Homo sapiens: one gene and its partner. The protein of the gene in region 2 purifies or fractionates together with the protein of the main gene of each other region. This does not show direct contact. Each region holds a gene or a part of one and is shown on either strand. Other genes may lie near its edges.

Region 1 (3,821 bases), on a different chromosome or scaffold from region 2:
CGTGTAGATGCAGTCTTAGTCTTCCCTACTCAAAATCACTTGCGCTTTTCATTCTGCCTCAAGTGATTAGCAACTCTGAGTCATTCAGGACCCAGTCTGTGAACCAGAGAGCTCTAGCTTTGTATGGGAGAAGGCAAGGGGACCAATATGAGGATGGTTTCAGGAGACTGTCCATCAGGCTACTGACCTTCAGTGTAAACAAATTTACACATCAGCCTAGCAGAGAGAATTCCTAAAGGAAATATGTTGGCATATATATATAAGTGTGCAGGTTTTATGTGTGTGTATGCATATATGTATGATGGGCCATGTTCAAAACAAATATATATGGTTCAATTAACATTAAAAAAGGACATTTTTAGTGTTAAAAATGACCTCAGTATTCAATTGAGGCTACATTATCTGTAACTTCACTGACAGAAAAGCTCTTTAAAAGGGAATTTTTACCAGCACTGTGGGAAGCCAAGATGGGTGGATCACCTGAGGTCAGAAGTTCGAGACCAGCCTGGCCAACATGGTGAAACCCATCTCTACTAAAAATACAAAAAATTAGCTGGGCGCAGTGGCCTGTGCCTGTAATCCCAGCTACTCGGGAGGCTGAGGCAGGAGAATCACTTGAACCCAGGAGGCGGAGGTTGCAGTGAGCTAAGATCGCGCCACTGCACTCCAGCCTGGGTGACAGAGCAAGACCGGATCCGTCTCAAAAAAAAAAAAGCCGGGGCGCCGGGGGGGGGGCGGAATTTTTATATTCTTTATTCAAATCTTCAATCTAGGAAGAGGCCTTCATTTACAGTGATCGATAGTTCATGTTTTCCAGATGGCATATCTTTTATTCTGGAAATGCTCTGAATGCAATGCCTGAAATTATAGAAGTAATCACTGTGCTTCACAAAATTCTACGAGACAACAACCCATCTCCCCTTTCCCTACTCTTTGTCCTCTTAACCCCCACAGAACAGAAACCATCCCCAAGCCAAAATAGCAGGAACAGTAAATAACTTTCACCAGAATGACTGATTTTAAAGTATCCCCTATAACTTTCGCATAACTGTTAACAAATTATTAATTCCTCACATAAGTCATTGTGATAAGTAATAAATCACACTTACCTTCTTCAGTCATATACTTGATCAGCTCGTCCTTAGTAAGAAACCCACGTTTAGCTGAATCTAAAACCTAGGGGAAAAGAAAAGATAGATATTATATTTTTCATTTGGTGAATAAGTTCTACATGATAAATTTTTCATATATGTGTGTATGTAAATAAATGTATTTATATATATGTATATGCATATAAGCTGGAGTTTACATACCTCAAAAGCTCGAAGAAGGACATCTTCTGGAATTGGTCTGTATCTATAATTATGCAATAAAATGAGTAAATGCCGTGGTATTTACCGCAGTCTTTACATAATAAATCAGCAGTCTCCAACCCTTTTGGCACCAGGGACCAGTTTCATGGAAGACAATTCTTCCACAGACCAGGGGAGGGGAGGGATGGTTTGGGGATGAAACTGCTCCACCTCAGATCATCAGGCATTAGATTCTCATAAGGAGCATGCAACTTAGATCCCTAACACGCACAGTTCACAATAGGGTTCGCATTCCTATGATAATCTAATGCCAATGCTTCTCAGACAGGAGGCGGAGTTCGGGCAGTAATGCTCACTCTCTTGCTGCTCACCTCCTGCTGTGTGGCCCAGGGGTCCTAACAGGCCAGGGACTGGCACCAGTACCTGGCCTGGTGGTTGGGGATCCCCGTAATAAATGACCACATAAAACAAAATAGGGCTGGGTATGGTGGCTCATGCCTGTAATCCCAGCACTTTGGGAGGCTGAGGTGGGCAGATCATCTGAGGTCAGGAGTTCGAGACCAGCCTGGCCAACATAGTGAAACTCTGTCTCTACTAAAAATACAAAAATTAGCCAGGCATGGTGGCATGCACGTGCCTGTAATCCCAGCTACTCGGGAGGCTGAGGCAGGAGAATTGCTTGAACCCAGGAGGTGGAGGTTGCAGTGAGCCAAGATGGTGCCACTGCATTCCAGCCTGGGTGACAAAAGCGAAAGTCCATCTCAAAAATAAAATAAAATAAAATAAAATAAAATAAAAGCTGCTAACATACTGGGATGATAATACTTGCCTCATTGAAATCTTTTTGGATTTCTGGATATGAAAGTTGAAAATACCTCAGCCCCACAGGAAATATTTAGTGCAAAATCACTGACATGTTTGAGGTTATCTATTAGCTTTTTGGACATCAATTTATCTGGGCACAAGACTTCTATGATGAACCAACTATGGTAAGCTAATGCTATATTTTTGCTAGAAAAATATTAGGATTCTTATTTATCATTGATAATTCAAAACAGAAGATACTAAGAATGTTGATTTACGATCTTTATAGCTTATTTACCCTCTAATTATGCTTTGCTTAGGATAACACTAGTGTGGTTGATATTTCTAAGCAGGTACCAACTGCCAGTTCAGAAGTAGCTTGAAAGGTTAGAGGGAGGCCACCTTAGGACACACTGCTTGAGTATAACACACAAAGTGAAAAAGCCAAGCGTCCTGAAATGAATGGATTCATAATTCTGACCATTACTTTGCCTTAACAATTGCATTTACTTACTTACTTTCTTTCTAGTAGTATTTCTGTCATCACCGGAAGAAATTTTTCGAATCGAATGTATCCAGTGGGTTCTTCTTCCTCTACCTAAACATTCAATAAGTAAATAGCCATTTAGTCATTCAACAAATGTATTCAGCAACTAGTTGTTCCAAGCACTGTGCCAAGTGCTAGAGACTCTGGATGGTGAGCACACTTGGGCGTGACCCCTGCTCACAGAGATGGTCCTTTACTTTATCTTTTTAAGATTTACCTTCATCATTCAACTGGAGCACAGCTGATACTCTGATCAGGGAGACAGACATTAATCAAGAAACAGCAACCAAAGACACTGTGAACTGATGTAAGTACAGTGAGGGGAAGGAGCATGGGTCTGTAAGAACAGCCAATAAAGAACACTCGGCCGGGCGTGGTGGCTCACGCCTGTAATCCCAGCACTTGAGGAGGCCAAGGCAGGCAGATTACTTGAGGTCAGGAGTTCAAGATCAGCTTGGCCAACATGGTGAAACCCCGTCTCTACTAAAAATACAAAAATTATATGGGCGTAGTGGCGCACACCTGTAATCCAAGCTACACGGGAGGCTGAAGCAGGAGAACCACTTGAACCCGGGAGATGGAGGTTGCAGTGAGCCGAGATCGCACCACTGTACTCCAGTATGGGCAACAGAGCGAGACTCCATCTCAATAAAAAAATAAAAAATAAAAAAATTGCCGGGTGCGATGGCTCACGCCTGTAATCCCAGAACTTTGGGAGGCCGAGGTGGGTGGATCACGAGGTCAGCAGATGGAGACCATCCTGGCTAACACGGTGAAACCCTGTCTCTACTAAAACTACAAAAAATTAGCCAGGCATGGTGGTGGGCGCCTGTAGTCCCAGCTACTCAGGAGGCTGAGGCAGGAGAATCACGTGAACCCAGGAGGCAGAGCTTGCAGTGAGCCGAGATCAGGCCACTGCATTCCAGCCTGCGTGACAGAGCGAGACTCCGTCTCAAAAAATATATATATATAGATAAATAAAAAAATAAAAAATAAATAAAATAATAAAATAAAATAAAAATAAAAAAATAAAGAACACTTCTTAGACCAGGAGACCAGGGAAGTCATCCATGAGGAAATAACACTCCAGCTGATTTAGAGAGTATGAGTAGAAGGTAATGAGACAGAGACAGCAGGGGAGAGACAGTCACCTAGAG
Region 2 (4,330 bases):
GATTTTTTGTATTTTTAGTAGAGATGGGGTTTCACCGTGTTAGCCAGGACGGTCTCGATTTCCTGATCTCTTGATCCTCCCGCCTCAGCCTCCCAAAGTGCTGGGATTACAGGTGTGAGCCACTGCGCCCGGCCAATCATGCTTGTTCTTTTTAAATGGTAGGTGTTGGTTTGATAGGAATGCTAAATAATAAGAGTAATGAAATTCGCTGGGTGTGGTGGCTCATGCCTGTAATCCCAGCACTTTGGGAGGCTGAGGCAGGTGGATCACGAGGTCAGGAGTTCGAGACCAGCCTGGCCAATATGGTGAAACCCTGTCTCTACTAAAAAAAAAAAATACAAAAATTATCTGAGTGTGGTGGCAGGCACCTGTAATCCCAGCTACTCAGGAGGCTGAGGCAGAAGAATCCTTTGAACCCAGGAGGTGGAGGGTGCAGTGAGCCAAGATCACACCATTGCACTCCAGCCTGGGCGACACAGTGAGACTCTACCTCAACAACAACAAAAAAAGTAATGAAATTCAAATCTTAATAAATTTTTAATTTTTTTCTATGAGAAAAATGCCATCCTTACTAATAGTCAACCTTTTCTTCCTATAGGTGAGGAAGTTCAAGCTCAAATATATGCATAATACTTTATCCCCCAAAGAACCATACTTTCAACTTTTAATTCCCATCTAATCCAACAGCTCAATTTGACATATTTCTTTATGTAGATTTTCCACATAACTTAGCTATATCAGTTGGTCTGGAAAAAGATACAGGTAAGAGTGTGGCCATGTTATTAATTTAATAATCCTATTAAGAGATAATTCTATTATTTTAATATGTCTCTGCCTGGATAACTATGCTTAAAAAATAAAAACTGTCATTTCTTTTTAAAACAAGACTGTAAAATACCTGAACCAAATCCAAATACTTAATAGTAATGAGTATAAGCAGAACTGAGCATTTATTTCTATGAGGAAATAAAATTATGTTTTCAAATAAATACTTTCAAAATATCTACTTTATGGCTGACTTGTATGTTTGGACAGATCCAGAATAAAGGGCCAACTTTTACCTGAGCTCAGAAGAAACTTTCAGCCTTTGAGATAATTGTGAAAGGAGTTTTTCTGCTCTTCATAATCTGCAGATGCAGAAGCAGTAAGTTCTGACTGGAAAGAGAGAGGTCTAGGATTTTCATTCGTGGGGAAAGGATTTGGAAATGTTCCAAGATCAAGACCTCTGCCCTTAAAATATGCCTGAAGCCTTCTGAAAAACTAAAGAGAGAAAGAAAATGGTCAATGCCAGATATAAATGAAACACCAAAAATAAAGGTGTTTTTCTTCCCTCTATTTTTCCCCTGAATTGACTTTAAGGCTAATCTAAGAGGCAGGAAATACAAAATCTAGAAATACAAGTACATGCTTCAGCTACTTCTCCTCCCCTCCTCTGTACCTTCTTTCTGACATTTCAACCCTAACCAAAATAATTCACCATTCTTACTGAAAATTGAAGGAAGACTATGGAGCGGCACCACAGTGGAAAGATTCATTGTGAACTATCTCTGAGTACTAAGGTCAAAGGTGAAAATGAACTCCATAATAAGCAGCTCAGTATCTCCTCTTCCTTAATATGAGATCTCTGTTGTTGCCTTCTGCAATAGTTTCTTTTCAGATTTCCATTAGGAAATGAACACAGAAGATGTGCGAAGTGCTACTTGCTTTGATGCAGGACAGGCAAATCCCAAAACTGGAGCTTAGCACAGGAGGGTTCTTGGCTTTGCCCAGAAAAGAATTTAAGGGCAGGCTGGTTGTGGTAACAATCTTTTATTGAAAGGTACTGCTCCTGCCAGAACAAGGCTAATTCATAGGTAGTGCACCTAGGGCTGACAACATATGGGCTCTTATCAACTGTGTTTTTATCCACTTTTGAATATATGCAAATTAAGGGATGGGTTAATGCAAACAGAAGGGAGTTATTTAGAGCTTTCTAGGAAAGAGGTGGTAACTTTTGGGTCATTGCCATGGAAAGGAGTGGTAGCTTCCAGGTAATTGCCATGACATTTGTAAACTGTCATGGCACTGAGGGGAGGATCATATCCTAAGAGCAATGAGAGCAGGTCGGGACCACTTTTGTTGCCATCTGCTGGTTTCACCCAGTGTTTTCACTTTATCCTGTCTGGACCAGATCCTGTTTTCGTCAGCAGCTGTGACCAGAAAACAAATCCTGCTGGTCTCTTATCTCAGTTTATTTTAATCCTATGTTGTTATATTTCCCATCATTCACTTTAGAAAAACCATATTTCAAAATAGTCATGTCAACATGTTTATTGTATTTGGCATTTTTTTTAAAGAGAATGTTTACTGATCTTTTGAATTCTATTTTATAGATAACTATATGTTGAAAATATGTCCAGTAAATTGATACCCATGCAGGGTCAACTTTCAATTTTTGCAGCTGAGCTTGGCAATCTCTAGTTATATGATAACTTGTTTTATCATCAGTTCAATCTAAGCTATGCACGAGCAATTCCCTGTTACACTCTTTATTTTTTATATGTATTAGAAATCAAGGCTACAAAGTCAATGTGTATATAAGATCAGTTACAAATGAATTGTACTATGTGTGTATAAGATTGTTTCTAAATATAAATTTGTTTCTCTTTACAGAAACAAATGTAAACTGGCCAGAGAAACAATAGGTTGCCAACCACTAGGGTAGTAAAACTCTGGTCCAATCCTGTTGGAGAATTTTCTCAACCCTTGGTAGCCCCCTTTCCACTACGTTCTGGAAAACAGAATGCTGTGTGCGTAAATCCAAAGAGGCATTAGTTCTATCCTGAAACCCAGGCCCCAAGTGTGTTCTTACCAGATCTCTGTTTCTGGGGTTGTTGAGTGGCTTCCATTTGTCCTCATTTCTTACTGTGGCTCCATTCACATGCCCAAGCAGCACCAGGGCAACACATAGTAGCAGGAGAGGTGCTCTGGTCATGGTGGAGTGAAGCTGAGTGAAAGAGGGGATGCGGGAGCTGTCAATGATCATTGAGAGAGATAGTCAGGGAAGAGAGAGAGAAAGAGGAAACATCTGTAAAGGCAGACAAGGAAGGAGAAATAGCATACTGGTTTATCTAAGTTTTACAGCCATCTTTTTTCCAGATTGACTTCTAAATGAGGACCCCAAAATGCAACTGATTAGCTTAAAGTAGCCCATGATAATGAGAATGTTATACAGTGATAAGCAAAACAATTATGGAACATAACATAGAAAGTCTGAATATGCCTTTTTCATCTTTGGAAAAAAAGTACTTTGTTGTCTCCAAAGAAACTGCAACTCTTAAAATAACAAAAAACAAAACCTTAAATTACTTTTAAGCCTTAAGACAGCAGTCTTTAAAAAAAAGAAAAGAAAAAGAAATTACTTCAGATACCGAGCTGAGAAATACACCTTATACACACATCTGAGACAGACAGACACATACCACAACAGTGTGAGTAGAGATTGTCTTCCACTCCAAGGTGTGAAAGAGAAACTGAGACACATTGTAGAAAAGGCTAATAAAGCTTACCAGGAGTTTGGTTTTGGTTGGTCCTCCTAGGTTATCCTGCCTATAATTGGCAAGGCAATTCATGGGTACTTATAACCAATGGATTGGGTGCCAGTGGAAGTCACTGACTTGAGCAGGGGAGTTAAAAAATAATGATTCCTTTTTCATCCAGAACACAAAGATTCTTGAGAGTCAGATCTTCAAGCTTCTTCAGGGATAAGCTTATTTGCCTTAGAAATGCGGCAGCCACTCCTTGAACCACGAACATTTTATGTGGATTTTATAAAACACACAAAGCACTTCCACACAGCAAAGTGATTTTCTCCTTTTTTACTTTTAAGGGAAGGGATACACCTGGAAATATGATGGATTATAGCTGGAAATATGATGATGATTATCCCACCTATTAGAACGTTCTTTTGGAGATATGACTTTTTCAAGTTAACAGCATTTTTTGAACAGAAAATTCTTTTGTGAGAGACAAAATTACTCTTTTTGACCTATACCTTGTACTTTTTTCTGAGAACCTCAAGAAGCTTTACAAGTTTTAAATAGTGGCATCATTTATCATAATATCTCTTCAAAATAGAGCAAGAAGATAACACATGTTTCATGGAAAAAAGATAAATTACTATACCTACAACATTCCCTTGCTGAATAAATGCCATCTGTAGAAAATGGTAGGCCGAGAAATTGGACTTGAGTTGTGACGTTGCTTTGGTTCCAATGATTTAGAACAAAATTTAGGACAAGATATTTATTCAGAAGGCTGGTGATCTCGACTGGAAATTAGCAAACCTGGC

Evidence for each region.
Region 1: the proteins of C2orf66 (region 2) and DRC8 purify together in Homo sapiens (affinity purification with mass spectrometry; one large-scale study listed by BioGRID and IntAct). This does not show direct contact.

Annotation. Positions count from the first base shown.
Region 1 is NC_000001.11:245,080,977-245,084,797, reverse strand, and holds part of DRC8 (dynein regulatory complex protein 8), read right to left. Parts: intron 2,716-3,821; coding exon 2,636-2,715; exon of another isoform or gene 2,633-2,635; intron 1,357-2,632; coding exon 1,314-1,356; intron 1,177-1,313; coding exon 1,110-1,176; intron 859-1,109; coding exon of another isoform or gene 830-858; exon of another isoform or gene 1-829. UniProt on the Homo sapiens protein: Component of the nexin-dynein regulatory complex (N-DRC), a key regulator of ciliary/flagellar motility which maintains the alignment and integrity of the distal axoneme and regulates microtubule sliding in motile axonemes.
Region 2 is NC_000002.12:196,806,363-196,810,692, forward strand, and holds the start of C2orf66 (uncharacterized protein C2orf66 precursor), read right to left. Parts: upstream 2,994-4,330; 5' UTR 2,987-2,993; coding exon of another isoform or gene 2,975-2,986; coding exon 2,852-2,974; intron 1,261-2,851; coding exon 1,081-1,260; 3' UTR 1,062-1,080; intron 1-1,061.